2 separate regions of the Homo sapiens genome follow, and region 2 is linked to region 1. A link means that fine-mapping ties the variant in region 1 to the expression of a gene that starts in the linked region. Tissue or cell type: whole blood. Region 1 holds a variant in brackets; the other region holds the start of a gene. All regions are shown on one strand. Distances are between the middles of the regions.

Region 1 (8,106 bases):
TTCCTCCATTACTGTATGCACCTTAGTTTGGCTATCAATAGGAAGAATAAGCTTATTTGCTTTTCATTTTAGTATTATATTGAGATTTTAAATGAACTTTATCCTACTGTGGGGATAATACACTGCATCTTAATCACCTTAAAACTCCACCATCCCTCCCGAAAGTCTAGCTGACAAGGGGGGACCGTCCAAACTGGCCAGCACAGCTCAGGAAGGGAGGCCGGGAGCTGGAGAGCGCGGGGTAGGAACGCAGGACGCAGGTGAAAGGGAGGAGGAAAGATCGGGACGAAGCAAGGAGCAGTCAGGGCGAGAAAGGAGTGCCGAGGGGAGATGGCTTCGGGTGAAACAGATTCAGAAAGGAGAAAGGGGACAGTGGCGATCTGAGGAGCAGAGTTTGCGAGTCTGAGAAGCCGGGAGGGGCGGGAGCAGACGGGGGACGGTGTCAGGACGGGGGGCTCCGTTACCCTCGCGGGCTCCCGGGGCAAGGCCCTAGGCCGGGGCGGAGCGCGGGGCCCGGCCGCCTCTCTTCATTCCTCGGCAGTGACCCCGGGGTCCGGCCGGCCCCTCCCCCGACGGCGATGGAGGTGGAGGCGGTGGTGGAGACTGCGACCGCAGCTGTTGCTCCGCACGGGATCTGGAGCTGGAGCCAGAAAGGACTGATCGGGACTGGCCTCCCCCAGTGGCTTTTTGCCCACTCCGCACCCGGTCGCCACTCCGGCTCCGGCGGCTGGTTCAGGATCGGTGGCTTTCTGCTGTCCGGCCGGAAACAGGCGCCAGTTTCCGGCCGGAGCGGGTTGGTGGTGACACCCAGGCCGCCCCCGGGCCTCCTCCCGCTCCGCCCCGTCGCAGCCCCGCCTTTAGCGCCGCTCCCCAGGCTGCGGCCAGTTTGGCGCTTGCCCCGCGCGTGACCCCGTGTTTTCCCGACCCGAGTCCCTAAAGCTCCTGGTCTGGAGCATTCTTGAACAGGAGTTGGAGGAGTACAGGGTGGACTCTTAGGACTCTGGGGTAGAATCAGTTGGCTACAGCCGTTGGGAAGGAGCTGAAAGGGGTGGAGTAGTTGTAGAAAGGTGAGAGAGATGAAAATACTTCAGAATGAAAAGACTGACATTCTAGTAACTCTACACAATCATTCTGGAGTGACCGGAGGAAGATTAGCTTCTTCCACACCAGTCTCCACCCAATTATATATTTCTCTTGTTCCTTCACTCTTGAAGTGAACATATCCTTCTCTGTAAACACTTAATATTTATTTACTTGCATAACAGTGATACCCTGTTGATACATCTGCTTTAGACTGCTAACAGTAAAAAAAACTTACATAGTGCGTTTGTTATGTCTTCTAGTGCGTTTGTTATGTCTTTTAAAACATTATGGCATAATTCAAATATGTATTGTATCCCTGTGATGTGTATCACTGCTCTCAGTGATACAGGGGGATACAAAAATTAACAAGACATAATCCCAGACATCAAAGGTTTTACAATTTAGTAAAATACATAAAACTATATTATATGTAGCAGAACTTGTATGTGTCCTACCTGAGTGACAATGAGCTATGGCTATGAGAACATAATAAGCCATCCTTGTCACATAGTAGACCTTCCATATTTGTTGAATGAATGAATAAGTATTAGGCCTGTGTGGACTGTTTCAAGAAAGAAAGGCCATTTAGTAAATACCTCTTTATGACAAACACAAAACGATGCCAACCCCGGCTATACTCTAACAAAAGACATTTGAAATTTTAATTCAGATTCCTAACATTATAGCACCTGGTCTGCATATTCAAAATAATGTATTGCCTAATTGTGCCCATTATGCCTATGTAAAAACAAATACTCTAGTCAACTTTTCTTTCCCCTCACTTCTTCCTCAGTTTCTAAAGGGGAGGCGTGGGGCATAGGCATTTTAGAATTGTCTAGCTCAGAATAGGAAACTGACACCTGAAACAGGGAAACTTCCTAGACAGCTATATCTCTTAGGGATACACCTGGGTTTACAATCGAAAATTTAGGGCTGGGCCCAAGGCTGTCCACACATGCTAAGGCCAAACAAGTCAGAGTGCCTTGCATGGGGGCATATCCAAGACATACAATAGAGGTTGACAAGTAAAGTCATTTGGCGTGGGCTTCAAGCGTATAAGGGACCACAAATTTTAGCTACCGTTTAGTGGTAAATTTAAGGAGGAGAGCAGGATGAGATTTGGTCACCTAAATTGACTCTAACTGAACTCTAACTGAACTGAACTGGAAGGGTACGGGGGTGGACGCTTGGGACTCTGGGGTAGAATCAGTTGGCTACAGCCGTTGGAAAGGAGCTGAAAAGGGTGTCGTTCTAGAAAGGTGAGAGGGATGAAAATACTTTAGAATGAAAAGACTGAAATTCTAGTAACTCTACACAAACATTCTGGAATGATTGTGACAACAATCACTGACCACACCTACCCTTTGCTAGTTAAATCTGAGATGGGAGCACAGATCTGTAGAAGAGGAGCCTCAAAATCTGAAAGTTGCCTTGTTTCACCACAGCTGTCCAGAACCAGGTTATACCCATATAAATATGTCTTTCTAATCTTAACGCCACTGCCACAGACTTAATAGAACCAGGCGTGGAGCTCAAAGGCACTCTACCCTCAATATAAGACTTTTTCTTTTGGCAGTGACCATAGAAGGTCTCCAGATTTGAAAGCTGGGCCAAGTTGCTGGTCAAAGTCATTTAAGTGACCACACTTTATAGGCTTGCCTGGAAATTTAGGGGCCAGGAAGTGATGGGGTCACAGTTGCTTTGTGCCTATTTCTTGCTCTGACCATCCATCATTCATTGTTGTTTGTGCAGTTGCTCAATGGGCTGCTTGTCTTTGGTCAGCCCAGGCTGTGTGGGTAGCAGTGTGGTCAGCTGGGCTGGGAGCCAGGCCACCTGGGTTCTGGTCCCAGCTCAACCAGTCCCTAATCCATTAAGTGACTCCCTTCCCATTCCTGTGTCTCAGTTTCTCTGCGTAGAAACTAGAGGCTTCTTCTCTAGTGATATGCAGCCATTTAGGCTGGCACTAGGTTGGATGCTCAGAGGCAGCTGTTTAATGTAGACATTGGCAGCAGCCAGAACACAGTTGACTATTTCTTGCTGCTAGGTAGAATAGTAAGGGAAAAAAGGTAAAAGCACCAGACAAAATCCTACCGGTGTACACAGGGCCACACACCCTCAACTGCTATTCTGTCCAAAGTTCTTTTCCACCCTAGAGATCTGTTTTTGTTTACTCGTCTTAGCAATTCTAAGGGCTGCTTCAAGGAGCTCCCTGAGCTTTTACATCACTTTAAGCAAGAGCAGAAAAACCAGAGCTTTGCATTTCACCAGAGAAACTAAAAAGAGAGACTATTTCAATACTGGGGCTAATGGCTAGAGTTGGGGAAAATGTTCAGAGAAAGGTTGTAGCTAGGCAGGGAAAAAAACTATTTACATTTATATGCTTTTGTGGTGGAAAAGAAAACCAAACCAAAATAACTTCCTTTCCACCGCCACCAATATAATTTAGACCATTGGTTCTGGGGAGTTTTTAAAAACTACATATTATACATGCCTAGGAACCTCAGACTGACGCAGAATTCTTTCTTGGAACTGAAGACCATGAATCCATATTTTTTAAAAAAATATCTAGGGCTCGGCTGGGAGCAGTGGCTCACGCTTGTAATACCAGCACTTTGGGAGGCTGAGGCAGGCGGATCATGAGGTCAGGAGATTGAGACCATCCTGGCTAACCCGGTGAAACCCTGTCTCTACTAAAACTACAAAAAATTAGCCAGGCGAGGTGGCGGGCGCCTGTAGTCCCAGCTACTTGGGAGGCTGAAGCAGGAGAATGACGTGAACTCGGGAGGCGGAGCTTGCAGTGAGACGAGATCGCGCCACTGCACTCCAGCCGGGCAACAGAGTGAGACTCTGTCTCAAAAAAAAAAAAAAAT[A/AAAAT]ATATATATATACACACACACACACACACACACACACATATATATACACACACATATATACACACATATATATACACACACATATATACGTATATATACGTATATATGTGTGTGTATATATATGTGTGTGTGTGTGTGTGTGTGTGTGTATATATATATATATATATATAGTAGGGGCTCAGCCAGGCATGGTGGATCCTGCCTGAAATCCCAGCACTTTGGGAGGCCAAGGCAGGAGAATGGCTTGAGCACAGGAGTTTGAGACCAGCCTGGGCAATATAAGGAGATCCCATTTCTACAAAAATAAAAAAAAATTAGTCAGGCATGGTGGTGCATGCCTGTGGTCCCAGCTACTAGGGAGGCTAAGGTGGGAGGATCACTTGAGTCTGGGAGATCGAGGCTCAGGGAACCATGATTGCACCACTGCACTCCAGCCTGGGTGACAGAGAGAAAGTGTCTCAAAAAAAAAAAAAAAAGCTGTATGAGGGGAAGTTTCATAATGTTAAACACATTCCTACCCTAAAACCTAGTAATTCCACTCCCTAGGAATTTACCCAATAGAAATGAAATATATGTGTACACAAAAAACTTATACGTGAATGTTCACTATAGCTTTATTCATAATAGCTCCAAACTAGAACATTTTAAATGTTCACCAACAGAAAATTACTTATATTGTTCTTACAATGGAGTACAAATTTAAAAAACAAATGATCATTAAACACAACAATATGAATGAATCTTGGACTCATTTGTGGTGCAAAAAAAGCCATTTATGTGAAATTCAGGAACAGGCGAACGTAATCTTGAAGATAAAAATCAGAACTGTGGTTACCTATTAGAGGGAGGTGAAGATCAAATAGGAAGGGACATGAGGGAACTTTCTGAGGTGATGAGAATGTTCTGTGTCTTGATAAGGATGGCTGTTACACACAGACATCAAATTGTATACTTAAGATCACTATATGTGAATTTTGCCTCAATTAAAAAAAAATCCAGGGTTTCTTGATAACATTTAACCAGGTTAAACATTTACATTTACTTGTGGATTATTTGATTGATATTTACTTCACCCATCAGATTCTGACACTCCATTAGCTAAGTTTACCATTTTGTGTATAGTACCTAGCATAGTATCTGACCCACGACAGTCATTTATTAAATATCTATTAAGTGAATGAATGAATGAATGAATTGGCAGCCATTTGGCAAATGAAAGCATTGCTTTGGTAGATTATTATTTCATATTTAGTATCTTGTAATAGTATAGCTGAGCCTCCCTAATCCCAGGCCCTCTATCTGCTTGCACACCAGTGCTAAGATTATGGTTCCTAAATTTCTTTTTTTCTTTCTCTTTTTTTTTTTGTTTTTTTTTGAGATGGAGTCTGGCTCTGTCACCCAGGCTGGAGTGCAGTGGTGCAATCTCGGCTCACTGCAACCTCCACCTCCCGGGTTCAAGCAATTCTCGTGCCTCAGCCTCCAGAGTACCTGGGATTACAGGCACGTGACACCACGCGTGGCTAATTTTTGTACTTTTAGTAGAGATGTTGGCCAGGATGGTCTTGAACTCCTGACCTCAAGTGATCCACCCTCCTCGGCATCCCAAAGTGCTGAGATTACAAGCGTGAGCCCAAAGTGCTGACATTACAAGTGTGAGCCACCATGCCCGGCCACTTCCTAAATTATTTCATGGATGTTTTCTCTCTTTTCAAAAACTCTAGCAAACATGTTGGTTGCTTAACCAATGTCCATCCTCCTTCTTCCTCCATGCCTATAGAACCTTGATTAGGTTCAAGTAACCAGCCTGCTGTACATGGCTTCAGGGGAGATTGGCCTCAGTAGAGGGGGCGGGGGCTGAGTGGGAGGAACACGGGTGAAACACTAATGGATCATGGGGCTCCCTTCCCCTTGCCAGTGCTTGATCTAGGCATGTGATAGAGTTCTGACCAATTCGAGATGTGAGAAAATCCGCTGGAGGCTTTTGGGAAAGTCTTCTTTGCTCTTACAAAGAGATGAAAAGAAAGAATAAATTATTTTCCTCTGCTGCTGAAAGTTGTTGGATTTGGAAATGTTGTGCTGGTCAGAGGCCAGACTGACATACTGAGGATGACAGAGCAAAAATATTAAAAGAATCTGGGTCTTTGGTGCCCTGCTGAATTAACCTATCCCAGAGTGGTCCAACTTGAAATTCTTGTTATATGGGATAAATGCATCTTTCTTATTTTTTGAGCCATTTCAAATTTAGTCTTTCTATTGCTTGTAACCAAAATAATCCCAACGAGTAAAATGTCATCAACAATACCTCAGTGTCAATGGATAAACTGAAAATTCCTTAATCTCCTTTGTAAGAGGGAACCCAGCCTGGTCTTAACTCCATTTCTACATTTCCATTTCTACATTTGTGTTCTACTTCCTTGACCACCAGTGGTGTGCTAGTAAATATTAACAACCGGTTCTCCAGGGTGAAAAAGCCCTGATTTGTAACATTTACTAATTTTCTTTCTCTTTTCTTTTTCTTTTTTTTTTTTTTTTTTTGAGACAGAGTCTCGCTTTTGTCGCCAAGGCTGGAGTGCAGTGGCACAATCCTGGCTCACTGCAACCTCTGCCTCCCGGGTTCAAACTTCTCCTGCCCCAGCCTCCTGAGTAGCTGGGATTAGAGGCACCCACCACCACGCCTGGCTAATTTTGTATTTTTAGTAGACACGGGGTTTCACCATGTTGACCAGGCTGGTCTTGAACTCCTGACCTCAGGTGATCCACCCGCCTTGGCCTCCCAAAGTGCTGAGATTACAGGAGTAAGCCACCATGCCCAGCCAGCAGTTACTAATTTTCATGGTGCAAATATTTCTACCACTGATAAGTTCATGCTACCAATGTGATGTTGCTGAACAAGGAGCTGGGAAATGTGCAGTCGGCTCTAGCAAGTCAGTAAGAGACAGCTTGAGCTAACTCCAGCAAACCACCATGTTACCACCCAACTGTCTCCCCTGTCTCTAAGTTTTCTCTCTGGAGAGAGTTCAAGGCCCAATCTGTATCACCTCCTTTTAAAGTCTTTGTGTTAAATCCTAAACTATAAATGTGTTTATCAGTCAACTGGAATTTAGCAATTGCCTTGAATTGTTAATTTTCACAAGTATTTGCTCATAAGTGAACCGCTTAATCAATTAATGAAAAATACTTAGCAATAATAAAAATGTCAAAAGAGAGGAGTTTAGTGACACCATCTTACCTTCCTGCACTCCCTAAAGTGTTCCTAGGATTAGGCATTAGGAGAACTCCTAAGAAGAAAATCCCTGCCTCCAGGCCCTAAAATCACTGGAGGTGCTTTATTGTAAATAAGATTTATCAGCTCCCAATTATTGCAAGTAACAGTTTCCCAGGAGAGCTGGGTTAAGAGATTAAAAAAGGGCCCTTGGCAAGATTGGGTGTGTTTCTAGTATGGTCCTGACAAATCCCCTGAGGATGTAAGAATGGGCTTCTAAGGCCATTACAGGCCTAGCAACAAGTAGGTAGAGAAAAGAAGCCAGTTCCTTAGGCTATGAGGAGAGCAAGTGCTACCTTACCTAATTGGAATGCAGGTCAGGTGGGTCAGCTTAATCTCCACCTCACAGGTGACACACCCCAGGCTTGGAGGAAGCATGTACTTAAGACTACCAACACTTTAGCTCAGGCAATGAGGAGAGGCCTGGGAATGGAATGACAAAGTCACTCTGCCCCTGACTAGGTCAGCACTAGGAGGGAGGCCAAACTCAGGCTACTGGAAACTGACAGAGCATTCAGGGGATAGAAGATTGACACTACATCAGGCTCTGGTTATTGCTTTGGGGCATTTACTTGACACTGTCATTAACTCCCCTTTTTTCTTTGTGACTAATGGCCCAGGTTGACCTCAACAGGTACCACATACTAAGAACATTTCCTAAATTATAAAGACATGCTTTTTCTCCCCACATCAGGGAGCTTTGGGGTTCAGTGACTATATCTAATTGGCATCTACTAGAATCTCTCACTGACGTGCCCTCCATTTCCATATTACTGTCCTGATCAGCACTGTGGCTGTTCCCATGTTGCTTATGGTCTATGGACGAGCCTGCAAAGCATAGCAACAACCATAGAGATGTCAATGGAAGTCATTATTTTCAGTTGGAAAAAA
Region 2 (8,104 bases), 97 kb before region 1:
GGCCCCCAGGGGGACCCTCCCCATCACTCAAGCCCCCCCTTACTCCAGCCAGGGGCGCCCCATCTGCCATCCGCTCGCCTTTGCCCCCAGACTCTGCCCGGGGAATGCCCTGATATTCCCCTTCATAGATCTCATCATCCTCGTCATGGCCCTCAGTAGCATCACTGGATGCACCACCTTCCTCCTCATCCTGGGTCCCTTCTCCTCGGTAATAACCATCACTGGGAGCAGGGAAGTCATCATCATCATCCTCCTCCTCAAAGCGGGAGTACGATCTTCGGGAATATTCGTCCTGGACTCTGTCCAGGCCCTTCACCACCTTCTTGGCCGCATGCTTTTTGACTTCCTTAGCAATGTCTTTGGCCCCACGGATGAAAGCTGCCCGGTCTCGGAAGCCCTCTTCCATGATGGGGCTTGGGGCACTTCACTGGGTCTTCTCCACCTCCTGCTTCTTTTTCAGCTTTTTGCTCAAGGACTTGTAGAGTCAAAAAGACCCCTCCCCACAGTTACTTAGATGAAGCGTGTTCCAGTATCTCTGGGCACAAAAAAAAGAGCAAACAGGTCCTAGCCAATGAGTGCCTAGGAAGGAAAAGGAAGGAGAGGAGCTTTGACCTATACCCAGTTCAGTTGGGTGGATGGGGAAGGGACAGGGGGAGCAGGGGAATGGGAAGGGGAAGGGGAGCCAGATTGGGAGGCTAAGCCAGGATAACTCAGGAAGGGTCGCCTGCTTCTCTTCCACAAGCCTCTGGAGACCTAGAAAAAATAACAGACAGCAAAAGGAAGTTGTGAGTCCTAAGGTGGTGAAGAAGGCCAGTATAAAGCCTCTCAACCCAGAGCCCCATCTGGACCATGTGGTGCAGAGATGGTCTTCTCGCTTTAGGCTCCCATCCACACACTAAAAAGGGATGGCTATCTGGGCTAACCGGGTCACTCACATAGAAGTCCCCTTACTTTGACCTTGGAGGCCTGGCCTGTGGAATTTGCTCCAAAGTCGCAGTCACCTACCCCCAAACCCACCCCAGCCCTTGCTTTATCACCAATCTGCAAAGAACTAAACAGGAAATATGAGAAACCAGAATTCCCTTCTTTAGTCTTGCCTGGGTTTCTTACTAGGGGTGGAGTTGAGGAGGATGTGTAAGAGGACAAGCCCTCCAACCTGTGGCCTTCCCTCCTCTGATGGCATCTGAAGGCAGGGGCTTCCACTGTCCTTCCCTCAGGTCCCATGTTTACAGGCTTCAACAAGGAGGGATTTTCTCTCAACATAGTCTAATGGGTAAATGCTCAGCTTCCAGAGTCACAAAGACATGGGGTTGACTTCCTGTTTTGGCAAATACTAGCTAAGGGACCAAGCCTCAGTTTCTTCTTGTTTAAAAAGGGGAAAGTAAGGGTCGAATGATATAATGTATCTATGCTCCTTACCATAAGTCACCTGGCACATAAAAATGATGAATAAATATTAATTATTAATTTTGTGGTGACAGTAATATAGTGAAATGCCCTATACTACCTCATAAGGTCCCCAGATGAAAGCTATCTTGGATGCTCTTTAGGGTGAGCAGCAGGAAGGGACACTGGCAAGGAGAATCCTGGTTCAGGGCAAAGCACATGACTGTTAGGGGTGACCTAAGTTGAAATCCCAACTCTGCCACTTACTAACTGATCTCAGTCAGGGTAGTTAACCTCCCTAAGCCTCAGTGTCCATCTATTTTAACTGGGGATAATTAAATTGGGAGACTGTTTCTTGGAGTTGATGTGAGAATGTAATCTCACAGTAGATACTCTATGTTAGTTTTCTTCCTTCCTATGATGTTGAAAGTGGGAAAGAAACAGGAAGCAGCAAGGGACAACAGGGGGGTCATACTTAGATGCTGTTGCCCAGCATCCTTGCAAACAGAGTCCCAAGACACCCCTATCTATGTTTCAACTAATTCCAGTAGCTGGGCCCACATTAACTACCTCCAGAAGAACAAGGGAAGATCCAGAAAAGGGGGACCTGGAACCCAAGTAAAGTGGAGGAAAGATGGAAAGCTAAGAAAGAGGTGATGACTGTCCACTGCCACCTTGCTTCAGAATGTCATAGATAGGCCCCCTTTCCACAGATGGGGGTGAGAATGGAAATGACTGTCAAATGCATACATTTCCAACATGAGGTTCTAAGGCCTACAGTTGCATCCCATCCCTCCAGGGCCTCCCTTCCTAATCCCCCTTAATCCTTTCTGCTCCTCCTCCAGGAGTCAAGGAAGAAGGAGTCCACAAACACCGCATTGCGTAGGAGGCGGATGTAGAATAAAGGGGGTTTGGGTGTCCCCCCAAAAAAGACATTCTCCAGAGGAAGGCATGGGATAGCCCCCTTCCTTCATAGGAGCAGAGGAAGCAGGCCTAGATTCTGATCAGAAATCATCCCCCTAAAAATATCCTGCCTCCGGTGCTCCCACCCATCCAGGGCCTTCATTAAAACACACACACACACACACACACGCACACACACACACACGCCCTGGTAGAAGACGGTAAGCAATGCTATGTGGTTCAGAGAGAAGCACTGGCAAGCAGCGCCTTATCCCCTCAGGACAGATGTAAGCAGTGGACCACGGTGACCAGAAGCAGTGACCCCTATGTCACCTTTTCTTCATGGTTCAGGGCCCAACCATCCCCCATGAAAGAGCTGGAACTGCGGAATCCCCTCAGCGCATGGCAATTTGCTAGCTTTCCTCTCTTTCCTAACCAGGATCTCCCCTCCAGCCCTGAAGGAGGCAGGACCCACCAGGAGCCATACTCTATGTTTGTTGACCCTATTTCCCCCTGAGAGGGGCACGTAGGGCAGGGAAGCCTTCCACAACCACAGCAGGATATGAGGTCTCAACAGCCAGCTTCCTCAGGGCCAGCAAGCCCAGGAGGTCAGGAGAGAAAGAAAGAAGACAAATTCTTTGAGCTGGTGAGGAAGTGGTGCTATTTTTAGCCCCCAAAACAGCACAGGGTGGCTAAGCCTGGGGGAGTGAGACAAGACTTGGAGAGGTGGAGGTTAAAGGAGACAAGGTTCAGGGTTACAAGGTCCTAGGCTGGCTGACTTCACCTGACAGGAAAAAATGTGCCCAGGAGATTTTCTGCAGAGGGTGGAGACAGGCAGGGGACTCCAGAGCAAATGCTTTCTTTCAGAACAGCTCATCCAGCCCTGGGTCCAGAACCCCCCACCCTCCCAGTCAAAGCCCCTGACTTTGGGGTCCACCCAGATCCCCAGGCCTTCCTAGCTCAGGTGACAAGGTCATTAAAAAGCAATCACTTATCAAAACGTCCGCGGGGGCGGGGGTAGAATGTGGGAGGTGCGGGAGCACCCCTTCCCCATGACAGCCCGGTCATCGAACTTCAGCCCCCACCCAGGACCATCAAGACTGCGCCTCCCCTCCCCACATCCTACCAAGGTTAGGAAGATAGGAGCACCCACAGTTCTGAGGGATAAAAATGAGGGTGTCAGCTGAGAATGCACACTGAGGAATACGGAGAGGCAGAGAGGGGGACGCAGGGAGAGACCTCCGCATGCACAGACATAGAGACCGCCCCTATCAGCATTTGCAGCGACCCCCCCACACCCCATCTTGCCTCAGCTCCGGAATAAGGGAAAAGCCCCCAGAACTGACTAAATCCCTGCTCTGAGCACCTCCTCCACCCTTGGTCCTGCTGCTAGACAAGTGTCCACCTTCACTCAACATCCCTTCCCCCCACCCCGGAGCAACTGCCGCCAGCCCCCGCCATCCATGCCCCCAACACCTGGCGGCTCTACATCTCTGTCTCCCCAGTATTTCCATTCTTCACTCCCCTTCCCTCCATCCTTCACCTGCCCTTCTTCCCCTGCCCCCCACCCACCCAAGTCCAGGCGTGCACACTGAGGCAGCATCCATTCTCCAGCCCCAGCCAAGGTCATTTATCATTCATCCTGGGGGTGGGGGGACGTCAAGGTGAGGAGGGGATAGGAGTTTGAGGGAACCTCATCCCACCTCACAACCCCACCACCACGTTAATCTCCGAAGGGGATAGTGGGGACTTGGTTAAGGTAGAGAAAAACACCCCTCCTCCCCATTCACCAATATTATACATATGCGTGTGTGTGTGTGTGTCCTGAAGAGCACAACTGAAATAAATGTCCATCCCCAAACCACCACCAACCCACCAACCCCCCTCACCCCTAGAGAGGGGATCGTCACCCTCCCCATAAGCAAAGCATCGGAGGATAAAATGGCTGCAAGGCAAGGCAAAGATGCTTCTGCCAGGGGCGGGGAGGAGGTGAGCGACTGAGAAAGGGGTCTCACCTGGTCTAGGTTCCCCGGGTAAGGAGTCCCGGGCGAGGACGGGGGTCCCGGCCGCGGGCGGAGGCGGCAGCGGCGACTGCTCCCGGCACCAGGGAAGCGGCAATGCAGACCTGCCACCCCCCTTCCACCACTCCAGCCCCGCCTCCGCCCCCCCCTACCCCGCGCCACTGAGCATCGGGAGAGACCATTGGTGGGGAGAGGAGAAAAGAGGATGGGGAGGGAGTCAGGGCACGGGGAGAAATGATGAAAGGGCCGGAGGTTGTCACAAGAACAGCTGGAAATGGCACCCAGCCCTTCCCAGGCCCTTCCTAGTAAAAGATAGAAGGAACTAAAGAAAAAAACAGTGATGTTAGGAAGACAAGTGGGAAGACAGGGAGATGGGGAATGTGGCAGCCCCTTCCTTAGCACCCCAGTCTCAGTATGGCAGGACCCAATAATTTCAGGGGCTTTTGCTGCCTTCAAAACACCTCCCTTGCCTTCTCCACTGCTCTCAAACTCCTTTTTCACAACAGTCTCCCAAATCCAGAGTGCTCCTATTCCAAGTTTACCTGGACATTTTAGAGAAAGCAGAGATAACAAGGTGTGGTTTCTATCCTGAACTGCCAGAGTCAGAGACCCCTGGATTCCTTCCATCTCTTTCCTCACAAAACAGTCCAGGTTACTTATTTACAGTGGACACCTCCTCATCCTGTCCATTCAGTTGGTGGTAGCAGAAGTACTGGGGAAGTTGAGGGATTTTTACAGACCTGACCAACCGGACAGTTCCCCTTCCATTAATTTGCTCCAATGACTCAAAAAGGATCCTCTCAATACCCTTCTCCATTTTCTCTTACTCTCCTCTACCTCCCTCCCCTCCCCTCCACACACTTGTACTTCCCGGGCAGGAAGAAGTAAATTGTTTCAGCTTTTCCCTTCATCTTTCCTTTGCTCTTGCATCAATAACCTGGACTCAGAGATCCAAGACATGCCACTTGGTGACACTTGATGACCATCCCTGCCGAAGGAGTGAGAGGGAATATGGTGATTTGGGGAAATACATCCTGAATGTGTCTATGCCAGATAAGGTCAGGACCTTCCAGACAGCACTGACCTGGGCTTGGACCTGGGTTCTCACTGCTAACAAGCTGTCAACTCTTGGTCAAGTTCTCCACATCTGTGAACTTCAGGTTTCTCATCTGGAAAAGGGGGGCTTGGACTAGATACTGCATCAGGTCCCTCTCAGATCTAATAGCGTGTGATTCTGCCTTACTAAATGTGGAGGCTTCAGAATGCTGATATATATACATGGAGAAGGCTGACAGGCTATGTCCGAAGAGACCACACAGGTAACATTTGCCAGGTTGAATTTACCTCTGACAGGGACACGGGCCTGGGCTTTGCAGACTCCAAAGCTGGATCTTGGAAATAATCATTCATGCCAACAAAGTTCACAATCTTCTGAAATATAAAGCCATAATACATAAATATTAATTTATCATAAATATTTAACTGTCACTCAGACTGAAAACTCATATCTACATGTCTAGTACATTCTCTCCCTGAAGCCAAATCAGAATCATAATGTCAATGTATAAATGCACAATGACATTACTGGAGGATTTGTATCTTTAATGGCATCTGGCCATCTGCAATAAGCAGCCATGCCAATGGGTCCAGAAAACTCTTCTTGGCAACAATCTTCTACCCCCACCTCTTTGCTATTGGCAGCCTTGCCAGCACTCCTGGACTACTCTGAATGTGACGGCTTTCCAGGATGGTGCTTGGACTGGCCTCAGGGACTCTCCCTTTACTAGACTTTCATTGCTGACCCGTCTTCAGGTTAACACACATTCTTTTTCTTTTTTTTTTTTTTTTTGAGACAGAGTCTCACTCTGTCGCCCAGGCTGGAGTGCAGTGGCGCAATCTCAGCTCACTGTAACCTCCACCTCCGGTGTTCAAGTGATTCTCCTGCCTCAGCCTTCCCAGTAGCTGGGACTACAGGCACGAGCCACCACACCCAGTTAACTTTTTTTTTTTTTTTTGAGACAGAGTCTTGCTCCGTCGCCCAGGCTGGAGTGCAGTGGCACAATCTCGGCTCACTGCAAGCTCCGCCTCCCGGGTTCATGCCATTCTCCTGCCTCAGCCTCCCGAGTAGCTGGGACTACAGGTGCCCGCCACCACACCCGGCTAATTTTTTGTATTTTTAGGAGAGACGGGGTTTCACTGTGTTAGCCAGGATGGTCTCGATCTCCTGACCTTGTGATCCGCCCGCCTCAGCCTCCCAAAGTGCTGGGATTACAGGCGTGAGCCACTGCGCCTGGCTAACTTTTGTATTGTTAATGGAGACAGGGTTTCACCGTGTTGGCCAGGCTGCTCTCGAACTCCGGACCTCAAGTGATCCACTCACCTCTGCCTCCCAAAGTGCTGGGATTACAGGCGTGAGCCACCGCACCCAGCCAAATATGTTAACATTTTCAATTAGGTTATAGCCAAGTCCAGCAGGAGAGCATTTGGCCAGCAGGGAGCCATTTCTTCCCTTTAAGGTGACTTTGCCTACTCTCCACTGATACCTTATTTGCTAAAATAGAAATCTTGCATACTTTTAGAGTGAAAACTTATACCATCAGTCCTCCATATCCATGGGTTTGGCATCCATGGATTCAACCAACTGTGGATGGAAAATGTAGTTAGGCCTATGATGGTTGCATTTGTACTGAACATGTATAGACATTCTCCTCTTGACATTTATTTCCTAAACAATACAGTATAACAACTACTTGCATAGTATTTACACTGCATTAGGTGTCACAAGTAATCTAGAGATGATTTAAAACACACTGGAGGATGTGCCTAGGTTATATGCAAATGTGCCATTTTATATAAGAGATTTGAGCATTTGTGAATTTTGATTATCTGTGGAGGGTCCTGGAACCAATCCCTTGAGAATACACAAATGACTGTATATATTTTCAAGTTCTGAGGGAAGACCTCATCATTTTCCCCCAGGTGCCAGTGCCCTGTCCCACCAACCACTCCTTTGTAGTCCCCTTTGCTGGGGCCATTTAATTTTAGAGTTCCTATGGGCTCAGTCCCAGGGGCGGGAAGCCTTCTACTCTCTTCTTGCTCACCACAGGCAGTCCCGACTTTAATACTGCCTATATGCTGATGATTCCCATTTATATCTGCAGTCCAGACCTTCCCATCAAGCCCAGACTCAAAATCTCTGTCTATTCAATATCACCACACGAACATCTAATAAGCATATCAAACTGGGGCAGCTAGAATTTCCGAGCCAACAGCCTCCAGGCTGAAGCAGCTGCCTCCCCTTACCTCAATTTTGTTTCAAATGGTTCCCTGCCATGATGTGAAAAAGGGCTGAAAAATGGTTTTTGGGAGCTCCCTAACTGGCTCTGACCTCAGCCTGCCTCCAATCCCAAACAGCTCTAGTGCATTATACACCATGCTATTTATCAATCTGTTTCTCCTCAGAAACATCCCATCCACCTGGATTGAATTTCTCCTTGCCTGGGAAAGGTCTATCCTTCCTTGAAGATTAAATGCAGGTATCACCTTTTTCCCAGGAAGTTTTCCTGGACTTTTCTTTTTTTAAGGTGGGAGGTGGGGGACAGTTTCGCTCTTGTTGCCCAGGCTGGAGTGCAATGGCTTGATCTCGGCTCACTGCAACCTCCACCTACCAGATTTAAGCGATTCTCCTGTCTCAGCCTCCTGAGTAGCTGGGATTACAGGCGCCCACCACTGCACCTGGCTAATTTTTGGTATTTCTAGTAGAGACGGAGTTTCACCATGTTGCCCAGGCTGGT

Evidence for each region. PIP is the estimated chance that this variant, and not a neighbour inherited with it, causes the effect.
Region 2: SV2A starts here. The variant in region 1 is fine-mapped to the expression of SV2A in whole blood (INTERVAL, PIP 0.94).

The regions. Positions count from the first base shown.
Region 1 is chr1:150,009,984-150,018,089 of GRCh38, forward strand. OTUD7B (OTU deubiquitinase 7B) reads right to left here and starts at 743. Exons shown (of 12, transcript NM_020205.4): 1 at 465-743. LOC124904413 (a long non-coding RNA gene) reads left to right here and starts at 2,480. Exons shown (of 3, transcript XR_007066598.1): 1 at 2,480-2,542. RefSeq lists enhancers at 1-370, 7,148-7,807, 7,808-8,106 and silencers at 305-594, 855-904. The variant A/AAAAT (reference allele first, on the strand shown) is at 3,954.
Region 2 is chr1:149,913,435-149,921,538 of GRCh38, forward strand. It overlaps SV2A (synaptic vesicle glycoprotein 2A), which reads right to left and starts at 4,410. Exons shown (of 13, transcript NM_014849.5): 1 at 4,305-4,410; 2 at 1-753. The coding sequence starts at 406. RefSeq lists a silencer at 4,254-4,323.